Regions from separate parts of the Homo sapiens genome. Here regions 1, 2 and 3 are each reported to be linked to region 4. Evidence: microRNA targets listed by miRTarBase, many of them from high-throughput screens and not tested one by one. Region 4 holds a microRNA gene; each other region holds the end of a gene's coding sequence.
Evidence for each region. The annotated mature microRNA hsa-miR-3125 reads UAGAGGAAGCUGUGGAGAGA and lies in region 4 at 2,838-2,857, opposite strand. An mRNA with a match to its seed (bases 2 to 7 or 8) in the 3' UTR can be bound and repressed. Matches are read on the target gene's strand: a 7mer-m8 pairs with bases 2 to 8, a 7mer-A1 pairs with bases 2 to 7 and ends in A, and an 8mer does both.

Region 1: the mRNA of PRKAR2A is a reported target of hsa-miR-3125. Seed matches in the 3' UTR shown: 7mer-m8 at 1,132-1,138 and 7mer-m8 at 3,417-3,423.
Region 2: miRTarBase lists MID1 as a target of hsa-miR-3125. Seed matches in the 3' UTR shown: 7mer-m8 at 3,549-3,555.
Region 3: miRTarBase lists HDGFL3 as a target of hsa-miR-3125. Seed matches in the 3' UTR shown: 7mer-m8 at 830-836 and 7mer-m8 at 1,101-1,107.

The regions. Positions count from the first base shown.
Region 1 is chr3:48,748,385-48,752,384 of GRCh38, reverse strand. PRKAR2A (protein kinase cAMP-dependent type II regulatory subunit alpha) reads left to right here. Exons shown (of 11, transcript NM_004157.4): 10 at 68-209; 11 at 667-4,000. The coding sequence ends at 800. Among named protein-coding and RNA genes, the nearest start is that of IP6K2, 33 kb to the right of the region's middle.
Region 2 is chrX:10,445,666-10,449,665 of GRCh38, forward strand. MID1 (midline 1) reads right to left here. Exons shown (of 10, transcript NM_000381.4): 10 at 1-4,000. The coding sequence ends at 3,703. Among named protein-coding and RNA genes, the nearest start is that of MID1, 170 kb to the right of the region's middle. RefSeq lists an enhancer at 3,274-4,000.
Region 3 is chr15:83,135,956-83,139,955 of GRCh38, reverse strand. HDGFL3 (HDGF like 3) reads left to right here. Exons shown (of 6, transcript NM_016073.4): 6 at 681-4,000. The coding sequence ends at 686. It overlaps TM6SF1 (transmembrane 6 superfamily member 1), which reads right to left. Exons shown (of 10, transcript NM_023003.5): 10 at 2,548-3,475. The coding sequence ends at 3,284. Among named protein-coding and RNA genes, the nearest start is that of TM6SF1, 30 kb to the right of the region's middle.
Region 4 is chr2:12,736,233-12,740,232 of GRCh38, reverse strand. It overlaps MIR3125 (microRNA 3125), which reads right to left and starts at 2,866; the gene lies at 2,789-2,866. The region is part of intron 2 of TRIB2 (tribbles pseudokinase 2); the gene reads right to left.

The DNA.
Region 1 (4,000 bases), not on the chromosome of region 4:
TGTGCAACTGGACATGCCCAGCTGTGATCCTGGAGTCAGCCTAGGTCATGTTCTTTGCCTGCTGTAGACTAAATCAAACAAGGATGGTGGGAACCAGGAGGTCGAGATTGCCCGCTGCCATAAGGGGCAGTACTTTGGAGAGCTTGCCCTGGTCACCAACAAACCCAGAGCTGCCTCAGCTTATGCAGTTGGAGATGTCAAATGCTTAGGTAAGAAAAGTTCTTTATGCATTAATATTCTTTTTCTAACATGTAATATTTTTTTCCCATCAGCAAGCCTTGACATATTCTGCCATCTTTTACTGCTGTCTAGGCCTAGGCAGTTTATGTGACCAACCAGAGATGGATGAATGGATGCTTTCAGCAAACATTTCTGAGTACTGATGACAGCCTGTGAGCAAGACAGGCATGCAGGTTCTTTAGCCGTATGAAAAGAACTGATGTCCAGGGCTGTGGGAGAATGGGGAGAACAGGAGCTGCTGGACTCTGTAAAGTCTCTAACCTGGATGACAGTCTTCTGAATTCATATAGAAACATCCCTTTTTGCAAGTGGCTGGTGTCCCAAGGCGTAATCTCATACAACATGAATGGGTATGTTTAGGAAAAGGTTTGCATGAGGGAAATGGCTTGAATTCATTCTCTCCCTCACCTCTTTTTAACAATGCAGTTATGGATGTACAAGCATTCGAGAGGCTTCTGGGGCCCTGCATGGACATCATGAAGAGGAACATCTCACACTATGAGGAACAGCTGGTGAAGATGTTTGGCTCCAGCGTGGATCTGGGCAACCTCGGGCAGTAGGTGTGCCACACCCCAGAGCCTTCTTAGTGTGACACCAAAACCTTCTGGTCAGCCACAGAACACATACAGAAAACAGACATGACAGAACTGTTCCTGCCGTTGCCGCCACTGCTGCCATTGCTGTGGTTATGGGCATTTAGAAAACTTGAAAGTCAGCACTAAAGGATGGGCAGAGGTTCAACCCACACCTCCACTTTGCTTCTGAAGGCCCATTCATTAGACCACTTGTAAAGATTACTCCAACCCAGTTTTTATATCTTTGGTTCAAAACGGCATGTCTCTCCAACAATTTAAGTGCCTGATACAAAGTCCAAAGTATAAACATGCTCCTTTCCTCTCTTGCTGCTACTCTTGCTTTTGGAAGTTACCACAGGGTCTGCAGAAACCTGTTGTATAACTGTAGACACTCTCTAATGGTTCTCAAAGGAGGAAATGTAGCCTTCAGTCTCCTCATTTGTCCTTTGAGGAAGTCCACATTTGTTCACAGTTGCAGCCTTTGGTTTTACAGTGGGAAATGGTGGTGGATGATATGGACATATGTAGCCCAGTGGCATTGTACTTTCTGCTGACAGCTGCACACATTACAGCTGTCTCCAAACCCACAGTGATGCTTAGGGAAAGACCCTGCTCAGGACCCAGCAGGTCAGCACCCCAGAGCAGACTGATAGGTCCGTGGGACCCATGTTAGAGCAGAAAATTTGGGCTCAGCACATTTTACTGTTAGTAGAGAGCCAGGAAACGTTTTCTGGGTTGGGGATTTTGTGGGATTTTTTAATTTTTTTAGTAGGTTTTGTTTAACCTCTGTGCAGTTTGTATGAATGAATTGCTATACATTTATAAGGAGCCAGGGTCTGGAGGGTTGCTATCACTTTGTCCAGCCCAAATACCTTCCTGGGCAACTCCTACCATTTGTTTGCAGTTGCCTCTACTAGCTGATGGCAGTATGCTGGAAAGAGGTTGTACTATAAAGAGAGTTCTTTCCTTCTACTCCAGAGTTGTTGTGTAGCTTTGCCATTGAACCGATCAATTTTTAAACTCTTTAAAGAAGCAGCAGCTATTTTTTTGAAATTAAAGAAAATTCTCAGGCCAGGCTCAATGGCTCATGCCTATAATTGTAGTGCTTTGGGAGGCTGAGCTGGGAGGATCGCTTAAGACCAGCCTAGGCAACAGAGTGAGATCCTGTCTCTACAAAAACAAAAATTTTTTTTTTGTTTTCTTTTTGAGACGGAGTTTCGCTCTTGTTGCCCAGGCTGGAGTGCAATGGTGCGGTCTTGGCTCACCGCAACCTCCGCCTCCCAGATTAAAGTGATTCTCCTGCCTCAACCTCCTGAGTAGCTGGGATTACAGGCATGCGCCACCATGCCGGGCGAATTTTGTATTTTTAATAGAGACAGGGTTTCTCTGTGTTGGTCAGGCTGGTCTCAAACTCCCAACCTCAGGTGATCCGCCCACCTCAGCCTCTCAGAGTGCTGGGATTACAGATGTGAGCCACTGCACCTGGCAAAAAAAAAATTTTTTTTTAATTTGTCAGGTGTGGTGATGCATGCATGTAGTCCCAAATACTTAGGAGGCTGAGGTGGAAGGATCACTTGAGCCCAGGAGGTCAAGGCAACAGTGAGCTGTGATCATGCCACTGCACTCCAGTCTGGGTGACACAGTGAGACCCTGTCTCTTAAAAAAAAAAAAAGAAAGAAAAAAAATTATTCTTTAGGTAATTTCACTTGGACATATTCATGTATATGGAGTTTGTCAGCTGACTCAGGCATTTACCCTAAAGATCAAATCTGTTTTCAAAAATTGGCATTGGCCAGGCACGGTGACCCACACCTGTAATCCCAGCACTTTGGGAGGCCGAGGCGGGCGGATCACGAGGTCAGGGGTTCAAGACCAGCCTGGCCAACATAGTGAAACCCCGTCTCTACTAAAAATACAAAAAATTAGCTGGGCATGGTGGTGGGCGCCTGTAATCCCAGCTACTTGAGAGGCTCAGGCAGGAGAATCGCTTGAACCTGGGAGTGGAGGTTGCAGTGAGCCGAGATTGCACCATTGTATTCCACCCCGGGTGACAGTGCAAGACTCCATCTCAAAAAAAAAAAAAAAATTTGGCATCATTTACAATTTCATAGAATTACTGTGAAGGCCTTTCTAGTTGAGATGTTGGGGTATTTGGGATTCTAATTGTTAACCCCAGAAGAAGGTAATTTAGCTTGTATTTATTTAAAACCCATTTAGCCTTTTACTTATATCTGGTAGAATTCCAGTGATCATCCTAATAAGGTATATTTCAGAATAATTTTTTTTTCCTTCAGAATAACTTAGAATCAGATGCTATAAGGGCTCCTAGGAGCAGTGTGAAATTTCCGTAAAGATAAATTTGAATGTTGTAACCAAGTTTATATTAAACCAAGAGGCCATTTCCAATATGATTTTTTGTTTCTTTTTAACTTGTTAAGTCCCTAAGAGATTACATGCTAGGGCTTGAGTCATTTCTATTGTAGATAATGATGGCCCACACAGTCACCTTCAACTATCCACATAAGCTAGGCTTTCCGCTTTTGCCACGGACAGTGTGACCAAGATATTTCCAGAGTAAATAACCCACCACAACCTTGGTAATTCCTCTTTTCTTCTTAAGCTCCAGGAAGCGAAAGCAGAAGGACTCTTTTCAGACTGCCCTCTGTAGCCTACATTGCAGCTTTCCAAAACAGGCAGCTAGCACTGGGAAAGCCCATGTGGTGACCCCATATTTTTCTGAGGTTCTTCTTTTCCATGGTGTTACTTTATTATCAGAAAGTAAATTCAGAAAACAGGTCTTGCCCTTAGCAGACAAGAACCACACCAGTTTCTTGTAAAGGTAACGGATACATTGGGATTCAGGAGTGACACAGAGGTCCAGCCCCAGAACTTGTAAGGATTTTGTTTGAACACTGAGCAGATGCCTCCTCCCTGCCACCCATCACACTAGTTAGGGCTGGCCATGAATTCTATGCCAGAGTCACTCCTGCAGTCTGCTAGGGATGGGCCTTCTTATCCCACTCTCGCACACATCCCAGTCTAGTCTTTGCCTTCACAGAGTCCTCCTTGACACCCCTGACTTAATGATAGTTGCTGTTTTGGAGTAGAATTGATCAGGTTTAAGTCATCCTGCTCAGGTTGGGCATAGTGGCTCATGCCTGTAATCTCAGCACTTTGGGAAGCCA
Region 2 (4,000 bases), not on the chromosome of region 4:
GTCCAGGTGCAAGGAGTGACATAAAGAGAATCAATTTTTCATGTCCAAGCCAAGCTGATACAGATGATGATACTTATCAGTGATTCCCATTTACACAGGCTTGGATTGCTTTTCAGATATCAGATTTTTGGAACTATTTTATAAATATTTTTAAAGGTGATGGAGCCACTGGAGTGTAGGTGAATTGGTGCCCCTCCCCTTTTCTTTTTGGGTGTATCAAGCATATAATCAATGACAGGAAAAGTGAAAGGTTTTTATGAGAGTTTTGCATTAAAAGAAAACCAACGATCAAGTTTCTACACTGCAGCACTGTTGATATTTGAGCAAGACAACTCTTCGTGGTCGGGGGCTGCGCTTGCACTGTAGGATGTTTAACGGCGTCCATGACCTCTACGCACTAGATGCTGGTAGCTTCCCTTCCCCGGCTGCGACAACCAAAAGTTGCCATTGCATTGCCAAATGTCTCCTGGGGGGCAAAATCGAGCACTGGTTGAGAAGCGCTGTTTTCAAAAACATCCTCCTGCCCCCATCATTGTCTTGGTGTGCTTTTTACCATTTTATTAAGATAGACCAGATGGTCAACTTCCCAACACCAAATGCACATGTATGCCAGCATATATGCGTGTCTCTTTGCAGGTATCTGCATGTTCCTGGAGCTGAGATGGAATTCCACGGTCACTGGAGGACGTTAGTTCAGTTCCTCAGCAAGTTTAAGGTCAATATATCAGTACCGTAATAAAAAAGCCTGTCTGTATTCAAGCTGTTTCTTTTCCTCCAGCAGAAACCATCGTCAATATTTGCAGTCAGTTTTTGAAGTCACTTTCTTTTAAAGCTGGAAAGAATCTTCACCCAGGCCCACCCTCATCTTAATCCACTATTTAGAGTCCTACTTGAATGATATCGCCAGCAACTTTCAACTTTGGATCCAGATTTCTTTATTTGTATCCACCAGGAAGAGAGGTACCACGTTTCTGAGTTCTTTTATGAGCACTCGCTATGTAATTTGCAAGGCCCAGTGCGAAGTGAAAACGCAGGCCCCTTGTTCAAAAATTGTTAAGAATTTCAAGACATCAACAGCAGAGCATTAAATCAGGCTTAGGGCCCTTCTGAACTCCTGGGCTCTGGGCATACCCATGACACCAGACCTGGCAGTCTTGGTTGGTGCTGCATTGATTTTGTTGTATTAATTTAATTGGCACTGCCATCTCTTTTGCCCCTGTATCGCAGTGTTTCCTGTGGTGAGGACCCCAAATAATAAAATACTGTGACCTCAATCAGTTTAAAGAGAATGCAAAATTACACTGCAGCAAATTTTTACAGCATACATTTTTTAGACTTTCAAAAAAAAAATTCACACGGGAATCTTTTCTACATCATTATAGTAATTAAACACGGTGGCCTTTCACCATATACATATTTTCCTGTAAATATGACAACCTGGAACTAGTAACTGCTACTATCCACAATGCTTTTAAGTTAGCCAAGAGTGAGACTTCCACAACAAAATTATGACATAATCTCTCATGTCCTTATAAAAATAGCCAAACATACCCTAAATGGCTTACTGTGAAAATTTGAGTAGTAACTTCTTAATATTGAAAAACATTATTTTCATGGAAATATTGTCCTTCTACTAAGTGTTTTATGTTAACATCATAAGGCAAACTGTAGCATTTATTGGTACCTGGAGACCGTGATTTTAAAAACTCAGAAGCTGAGTTTTAGACCCTTTTATTTAGAACCTGTTAGTGTACAAAGTGCATTAAAATATCCATTATCCAGTTACCCAAAATGTATGTAAAAATTACTGAGACAACCCTTTCAGTTTACTCAGAGAAGGCAAACACACATTGCTTTTATATTGTAATAAAAAGAAAAACCTATAAGGTTTCCAGAGAAAGATTGTTTTTTTTCCATTGAGGCGTCCATCTTTTAGATGTGAAATTGTCTTAGGTATCTATCAAAATATTCATCTGGGTATAAATAATATAGTAAATATATAGAATCTATCTGTTAAGAAAAAGGAGAGTGTCTGCTAGGGAAGAGGATGGAAGGACCCAGGAAGCTGGCTTGGCCTCCCTTGAAATCCAGATTTGCAATCACATGACCTTTGGCCACGTGATGCTGAAACAATGAGTTCATTGACTTATTTCAGGGAGGCAGTTGGTTGATTTGGTTAAAAACAAAATAACTAAAAACAATGTCTAAATCCACTAGTCTGCTCAGTCAAAATGGCTGACCCAGTATCCCAGGTAAATATTTTAGCAATTGAAACCATTTATAGAGGTCATGCCCTTCATCAAACTAGAACCAATGCCAGAGTTCTGGGCCAAGAACTGCTCAAGAAAGCCTTAATTCATGGACCATTCCAACGCATCAGATTGGCATGCAAAGAATCCCAGCTGACATTTTATAAGCAGGTTCCTGAATAACGAGTTTGAATTTTTTTTTTTTTTTTTTGGTCTTACAACTCTATTGTAAACTATACTAGACTATAGAGGGACTTCTACATCTTTCAAGATGTGTTTAATAAAGGTCTGTTTATAATAACTTTTGAGGCATGAATCTAGCAAATAGTACTTTATACAATGTCCCTTGTCATTACCAACTCATAAATATTAAGTGTTTTTCAGTGACTTATGTTTGGATGTGGTAGTGCTGATCAGGGCCATGTGCTGATGTCCTGGAGAGCAAAATCAATCCAAAGTGGTGCTGCTATTTGTGACAGAACATGTTTATTTACTCAGCCCCGGAGACAAAAGGAAAATTGATATGGGGGAGCGGGAAATAGGAGAACTATTAAATGTAGTGAAGAAATTTCACAGGTCTAAAGGAACTATTAAAAGGAAGGATAAAGTAGATTCTATACTATAAAACAGAATCCTACCTCTGATAAAAGACAAATCAGCCTGAATTTTTGAATAATCAATAGGATTCAAAATGACTATTTTCAATTGCAATCTCATTCTTAATGTTCTTCCAGAACCCTTAACCCTGAGAGAAGCAGGGCAAAATGTGGCCAAAGGATTCAGAACCTTTCTTTCCAACATTATCCCATCAGCTATGAGAAGGTAAAGATTTAGCCACGGCAAGGTCCGAGGTCCAAAATCAACTCTTTTCATTCTCTGTCTTGCTCTCCATTTTAGTTGATCTGATACAACTTTTTGACATCACAATTAAAACACTTCAAATTAAACCAGAGTAAGAAAGCCTGTTTCCTCCCCTACTAGGTTCAAACACATCCTGTTATGCACCATCGAGGTGAGAAGACCTACCATGGGATCATCATGGGATATCAGGTAAGAAGATGAGTAACATACAAAACTACAAAAGTTTTTGTTTTTTTGTAAGCCCACAGATTGTGATGAAATGAAGGTTGTAAATAGCTGATAAACTTATGGGCCTCTTAATGTGCAAAACCAAGTAATTCCTAAAAGTTGTAATCCTGATTATGTTTCTCTTATAAATAATCTATAGATTTTCCTCTAAATACAAAAAAATTAAAGAAATTATTAAAGCCCGTACTTAATACAAGACACAGTAAAAGGAGAGGAATCTCTTGTTTTGAGCCCTATCTGAGCCGATTTCGGGACACTTCTGGTGAGATTTCATTACACTCATGAAGCCTGTGCTTTCTCAGTCCCCTAAATAGTGGCCTGAACCTTACTGTTCCCCAGAAAGCAGCTCCATGTGGCCAGACGCTCACGGCAGCTGCTCTGTGCAGTCCAAATGGTCTGGGATAGGGAGCCCAGTGATAATCGTCAGACACTTGTTCCACACGGTGAAGGTGGGGCAAACAGGCTGCGCAAATGCGACGTCGAAGGTGTAGAGGTGGATGGAGTTCAAAGCATCATAAAAGGCGATAGAGCCGTTATCATAGTCCAGCAGGATGCCCACGCGCCGGAGGTGGGGGGCAGGCTCAATGGGGATTTCCTTGCTATTGTGTCTCACCACCCAGTTATTGTTGCAGCGGCAGAGCGCCCAGGAAGCAGAGTTCTTC
Region 3 (4,000 bases), not on the chromosome of region 4:
CATCCTTTTGGGGAAATAGAACCAGACACAATTTAAAGTGGGACCCAAATAGAAACATAATTCTTTTATGAAACAAATGTTTTATTTTCTGTTTGTCACACGGATGCCATCTAAATTTTAAAAGAAATCTAGGCTTCCTCTTATTCTTTATGTTTTTTTTAAAAGCAAGAAGTCAGAGACTTTGTACATCATGATTAACTTCTACATTTGTTTGAGCTATGTGTCACAAGTAATTAAGTTATAAATATTCTGAAGATTAATTGGTGCACACTCTAAGTGCTTTTTAAATTTTACACAGCTTACCTTTCTTTCTGAAGAATGTCCTCACAAAGATAGATTATATCAATTTCTCCACTGATGATGTATTCCAGCAATAAACATAGTCCTAGAATTGTAGAATGTGCACTGCTGCACTCTGTCCTAACAGACAGTAGACAAGGTTTATAATTTTTTTCTATGGGACACTAAAAATACCCTAGGATTTCCTTTAACTTTTTGCACTGACAGGTCTAAAGCAAAGCCACAGAAGCTGCTCTTGCTCAGTAAGTATTGTTAATGCTGCAGTGCATATTAAAATTTCAGAAAACCCAATTATGTACTATCTAGGTGTGGATAGCTCTCATTGTTAGTATCCTAAATCATCTAAAGGCTTGTTTTCTTTCTTTTTTTTTTTTTTACAGACCTAACTACCATAATGAATGCTGCATATTAAGAGAAACCACAAGAAGGTTATATGTTTGGTTGTCTAATATTCTTGGATTTGATATGAACCAACACATAGTCCTTGTTGTCATTGACAGAACCCCAGTTTGTATGTACATTATTCATATTCCTCTCTGTTGTGTTTCGGGGGGAAAAGACATTTTAGCCTTTTTTAAAAGTTACTGATTTAATTTCATGTTATTTGGTTGCATGAAGTTGCCCTTAACCACTAAGGATTATCAAGATTTTTGCGCAGACTTATACATGTCTAGGATCCTTTTATCAAGGCAGTTATGATCATCGTTTTCCTGCCTTGACCCCACCATCATCAAACACTCAGTTAAATATAAATTAACATTTTTTAGATGACCACTCAACATAATGCTTAAGAATGGAATTTCCTCTCTGTGACAGAACCCAGGAATTAATTCCTAAATACATAACGTTGGTATATTGAAGACGAAATTAAAATTGTCCTTCAGTTTTGAGGCCATGTGTAAAGTTTAACCATATTGTAAAATATCTATTCCGTATTAGAAATAGCTAGTTGACAGCTTATACTTCTCAAAATTCATATTGTTATGTACACAAACTAAGTTTCTATATGTGAAGTTAGTGAGTCTTTTTGTGTTACTCCAAAATAAAGGCAATGATTTATTTTTTTCCCAGTGCCAATACAATTTTGAGCTAAGCACTCAAGGTGGATACTTTACATTTTAAAGCTGGAATCAGCAACAGCCCTATGGGAAACCAGACAAAGCATTGACTTTTAAATGTAGACTTTTAAAATAAACTGTTTTCTTTTGGAACTACAATTAGAATAGTTAATATTCATCCTTAAACCATTATTATGTGTACATTATTGTTGCTATTGTGATAATAGAGAATTTTATTTATTTTTATGCCAGCTTATATTGTGAGAACACATTTAGTCAGTTTGGGTTTTATCAATCCTGTTAATGCTTGTCCTTGGAACATCTTTCGCGTATTCACGGTTTGTAGTTGAAAAGTTTACTGTAAAAAAATCAAAAACAAAAAAATGTATTGTTTTTACAGAATAAATTTATTGGAATGTGTACTGGGAGTAAGATTTGAGGTTGTAAGCAAACTAAGTTAGTGTAATTTGGCTTCATATATGTAACGTGAGGTATTAATGTAATTCATATATTAAAGCAAAAATTGTTCACAGCAAGCTGACAATAGAATCAAGTGCAGGTGAGGGTTTTTCTTTTTCTTTCTTTTTTTTTTTTTAAACACTCTCTGGGTTTTAGATTATTTGAAAACACTGTAGGGGATGATGGGGAGATGACTACATGATTTGCTTACACTTACATATTTACCAGCCCAGTGGACCCTAGATTTTGTAATTTGATATTATCCATGCATTGATTTGTATCCCATTTTCTTTTGGTTTTCTTGATGAGAGCTAATAAAAACATGAGAAAATGTGAGCAGACCTAAAAGCCTAGGGCCGTTAATAATGATGATGGTGATGATGGCAGCTAAGGGTATGAAAGCACCAGTCCATTTATCATTCCAGGGCACAGTGAGGAGGTGGCTGTTTGTATTTTTGGTGTGTTTCTTTCATTTAGTGAATACTGATTTTCTCTAGTATACTCAACATACAATCCCAAACATGAAAAGTTCATAAAAAGATAGTAGGGATGTCGATCTAATACTTCTTCCTTAAAAGGTCCTTTTTAATTTTGAATATTTGAATGTATTTTTTAATTAATGAAATTTAATTCATCAAAAGACCTCTTCATTGCTCACACTGAAACATAAGGGGAATGTAGATGGCATTTTGAATTGGAATATACAACTCACAAATTTTCTTTAAAAGCGTTTTATGTGTATATATGAAATGTTTCAAATTTAATAAGATTTGTCTTTATAAGAGGCCAAAAATAATTTTATTAAAAATATACACAGAAATACAATAGAAATATTTCCAGCCACCAATAAAACAAATGTTCATTAAGGATAGAGATAAAGTTACTGATCCCTATTTAGCTGTTTAAATTCACACAAAAAAATTTAGTAAAAGTAATTTTCTTGAAACAGCAGCAAATAATAAACTTTCCTTGGGAAAACATTTTTCAAACAACATTTAAAAATATTCTGATGATTTGCCTTTTATATTGAGTTTAATAATGAAGCATATTCATCTTATTTGCAAAAGTTACTCCTCCAGTCTGCATTCACTGTTTTGAATTTTTTAATATGCACAGGCCATATTCTCTTTTGAATAGTTTCATTTCATGCTCACTACTGTTGGCACTAAATTGTAATTTTTTACACTTATAATTATTTTATATGTCAAACAATATTGAGATGGATGATCAAGTTTATTCACAAATGATTTTGAATATATTTCTTTAAACAAACTGTTTCTCAAGAATTTCCATTTTCCTTCAAAAAAAATTTACACAATACCATATAGCTCACACATACAGTGCAGAGCAAGAATGTACATATTCTTAAGTACTCACGTATGAGAAGAGAGTGAAATGGGACAAAATATCAGTACCAGTATAACAAAAGTTAGTAATTTAGAAAGGAGGAACATGAAGTAATATTTTTATTCCACTTTTTCTTCTGCCTTTGTTTTTATGAAGAACTCTGGTTTGTAGATACAACGATAGGCCAAGAGCTGAGGAAGAACTCCATATGCTATGTTTAATGCTAAAAAAAGGATTTTTGCTTCTTCAGGGACTCTGTAGACATAAGCAGTTCTAGCATGAAGAGATGCACCAATGTGAGAAAACTGAGCCTGTTGCATTTAAAAAAAAAAAATTGAGTAAGCATGAAACGTGTTCAGTTGGATGCATGATGAGTTCTGAATGGTTCATTCAGGCTACGTTTCTGTGCCCTCAAAACCAGTCTCACCTGCAGGCAAAATACCTTCAAACAATCCAGAGTCTTTAATGTCAGAGTCTTTCATTAAATTTAGTCCTTGATTAAATTTAGGGCCATTCTTGATATGACTGTTCAAATAAAGTAGATATTATTTAGTGTAGTTTTATCATGCCAGTTGTGTTTTTTAACCATCAAGTGCCCCTTACCGAACATTAGTGGCTCAATCTAATAGAAAAATCTGAATAAAATCTCAAATTTTTTTCTGATTTGCGTTCTGGAGATCCTGCATACAGACTCAGTTGTGGTTCACAAATTGCGTTCCAATAAAAATGAAGAAAGCGCAGAGTTTTAAAAAACAAATATTTTTAGCATAAACTATTGAAAGGGAAGCACTGGGGGGACCTCAGCTTCATTTATCAGTCTTTCATCTACTCCTTGC
Region 4 (4,000 bases):
ACTCCTCATTCACATTCATTCATTCACGCATTCATCTGACCAGCCAAACATTACTCACTGAGCACCTTCTAGCTGCCAGCTACTATTCCAGGGCTGAGGACACCCACATGGGTGAACAAGACTGACAAGGTCTTTTCATGCAGCTGATAATCCACTGGGGAGCTCAAACCTTGAGCACCTTAGCGAACCATGAATCACATCATCATCACCCCTGCGATGAGGGAACAAGAGATTAACTAGCTTTCTCAAAGTCACATTTGCATAATGATAGGGCACCACAGAATTCAAACCGAGACCTAACCAACCAGGAAGCCCACAGCTTTGTCTACAACTTTTGGCAGACGTGTAACTAACATGACAGACCACAGTCCACAAAGACCTTTCACCTTACTTGCATTTTGGCCTCACTACAGCCCTTTGTATTAGACACGTAGGATATTAACATCCCATTTTACAGATGAGAATATCGAGACTCAGAGAGTTCGGGTAACTTCCCCAAACCTGTTAGCTGGGAAATGGAGAAGACTTGATCCCACATCTTCCTAAGTTGATGCTGCTGCTCTTTCTGCTATACCAGGTGCCTCTCTTTAGGACCAGGCAGGAAGCAGGGAATGTTCAAGCAGGAGTGGACTCCTATCACCTGGTCCTTCTGAGGCTGACACCCTCGTATCAAGACCATCTTCTTTCCCTGGTCAGGCCCAGTGTCTCAAACCTGTAATCCCAACACTTTGGGAGGCCAAGGCGGGTGAGTTCAAGACCAGCCTGGCCAACATGGTGAAACCTCATCTCTACTAAAAATACGATAATTAGCAGAGCGTGGTGGTGCACACCTGTAATCCCAGATGCTCAGGAGGCCGAGGCAGGAGAATCGTTTGAACCCGGGAGGCGGAGGTTACAGTGAGCTGAGATCGCACTACTGCATTCCAGCCTGGGTGACAGAGTGAGACTCTGTCTCAAAAAAGAAAAACAAAACCATCTTCTTTCCCCAGATTTCCTGCCGCCTTTGTCTTCTGTCCTGCCCCTCATACTCCCAAGGCCTTGTCCTTGACCAGGTTCTAACATCTGATGAAGGTCACCCACATCTTCTGTCTGTGCACATCTGTGATTCCAATTTCCCACGTGTCTGCGTGCATAGGGTGTGTGTGAACAGAACCATGAGCCCAAGATCCTTTTCAAACTAGGCATCCTACCCCCAGTCTTTCCCTCCCATTTAAGGTCCATCATGGTTGCTGACAGGAAAGTAGGACTCTCCAGGGTATGCTCAAGAAAAGAGGTAAGAAATCCTGCATTAAACTGCCTGGAACCCAGCATGCATCCTTACACAGTAAGATCTGATGTCATCATTGTGTATGACATAAATTAAGTGCTCAGGAAATACTTTTGGAAGTGAGTTGAATTCTTATCATTAACTATACCTAATCTACTGTGAGGGCCAGGATGCGCGGTGACTTGTTCAAGGCTATGGTGAAAGTCACTGAGAGCTTCCTCCACCCAGCGCCCCAAGCTCCTAGACCAGCCTCCTCTCCTTAGCTCAGGGGCCTCCTAAGAATTCCTGTTTTCCTGCCCTACTGTTCTTTGAGTGGAAAGTTAGGAATTGCTACCTTCCCGTGCTCAAAATTGAAATCTTCCTCTGACTCTCCTGGCTAGGGCACTGCCTCAGAGAGTTGTAGGTAGTCCTTGGGTCTCAAAAGCTCAGTTAATCTATCCCATCATCACACCCCTGGAGGCTTGCAGAGAAGGTGAGGAGGGATGGGGAGGAGTTGGAGTTAGGATTAAGACAGCATCCACAAGGGCTGTCTCACTCACATCACGTATTTCCTTCATCTCAAAAGCACACATGCAAGCGCACGTGCAAGCATCTGCCCTGTTTGCCCCGAAGTGCAAAAAAAGCTCAAGTAAGCATTGAATAAGAAAGAGCTTGGAAAAACCACATTGGGTCATAAGTCAGAGCTTGTGACTCAAGTCCATCTCCTGCTGTTTCTCTTCCTCCGTCTGCCTGAAGGTCTTAGCCTTTCAGCGTGATCACCACCGCCACTAAGAGCCATAGAAGCGGGGCAAGGTTCAAATTAACCAAAAGATTGCTGCTGGGAGTTCTCTACAGCAAAAGGTTTAGTGAAATCCTGGGTTGACTCTAATGCCTCATATTTGGATTACAGGAGTTCAAAGCTCAAGGAGTGACTACTTTCCGTATTAATTTCCACCAACGAACAAACAATAGTTGTGGTCGTGGGAAAAGGCACTGGGCTAAGAGCTAGGAAGGCAGTTTCCAGGCTAGGCTCTGTCTCTCACCTGCTGTGTGGCTATGGCTGAGTCACTCAACTTCTCTGTTTTTCAGACCTAAAGAGGAGCACTAGACAAGGAAGTCTTTAAAAAAAAAATTATGTAGTAAAATAGACACAACATAACATGTACCATCTTAAACCATTTTTAAGTGTACTTCATTGGCATTAAGTACATTTACACTGTCATGCAAACATCTGGACAAGGCAGTCTTAAAGTCTCTGCCAGTTTTATCATTCTGGGATTCTGTAATACCCATCTCTCCCTTTTTTGTGTGCTCACTCACATTCTATTATAATCTATAGAATACATAGTCTTCTGCGCCTATAGCTAATGTTCTACAAAAACAGGAAGGATCTACATGTGCTAATCTGGAATGGAGCTGATTAAAAACAAATCTCTTTTGTCCTTTTGCGTTTCCTAATCTAAGGTGGCAGGTGGAGCTGGCCCACGAGACTTACTAGCTGTCGAGATGTGACGGAGGTGAAAAGGTGAAACCCAAGGGGCAGAGGAAAGGAGGAGGAAGGCGGGGATCTCGAACCACAGGCACCGTGAGTTCTCTCCACAGCTTCCTCTACCCATTCTCACCCAGCGCAAGCCAGACTCCTCATCTCCAATTTCACTGTTTTAGCAGAATAGCTATGGAAAGAATTACAACTGTGGAAATAATAGTAAGAAGAAAAACAAGCTCTCCCATCTGTGGGACAAGGGGCGGTCCAGTGGAACAAGCATGGATCTTGGTATCAAAGGGCCCAGGTTTTGCCCAGGTTCGTCTGCCCCAAACCTGCAGTGGTGATGCAGCTCATCCAGGTGGAGGCCTAGGGCTTGGTCACGGCTGCAGGGTGACCCCCAGGGACTCTCGACCATCTCTTGGGCCACACTCCCTCTCTCTCCATCCCAGCCTGTTTGCTGTTCCTCACATGCCCAGCTTGGCCCCAGTCCTTCTGAGGCCTTTGCCACAGTGTCCCCTTGCCCTAATTGTGCTTCCCCAACTGTGTGACAGCTCACTTTTGTCTTGCCTCTGCTCGAATGAAGGTTATTAAACTTGATCCTGTCCATCCTACATTACGGAGCACGCCCTCCTCCTCTTTTCAGCATGGGAGATATCGTACATTTACATTTCATGATTTACTATGTATCATTATGGTGATCATTTTGGGATGATCACCTCACTTCCCACCTCCAAGAGCCCATGGGCATGTGGTTGATGTCATTTTGTACGCAGAGAACAACACTTAAGTTTGCTGCTGTACCTTGAGTACCTAGACGAGTACCTGGCACAGGGCAGATACACAATCCATCAATGACAGGGACTGTCCTGCTGTCGACCCCAGGGGGTGAGCTTCAGTGCGCTCACCGGCAAAGGAACAAGGGCCGGTGCTCTGCCTACCTGGCCAGGGTTTAGTGGCAGTCAATGAGAGCTCTACAGAGGATGGGCTTTGTAAATGACAGCATCAAGGAATCTCCCATAGTGATAAGGGGGTGGGGATATCAGGCATCTGTCAGTAAAGGTGGGAGGGAGATATGACTACAGGGACTTGAATTTCTCCTCGCTCAGTCTTGTCAGGGTGCAGAGCTCACCACCTCAAGCTTTTCGTGCAAGGGACTCTCGACCATCTCCCTCTCCCTCCTTCCCAGCCTGTTTGCTGTTCCTCACATGCCCTGCTTGACCCCAGTCCTTCTGAGGCCTTTGCCACAGTGTCTCCCCACCCGGATTGTG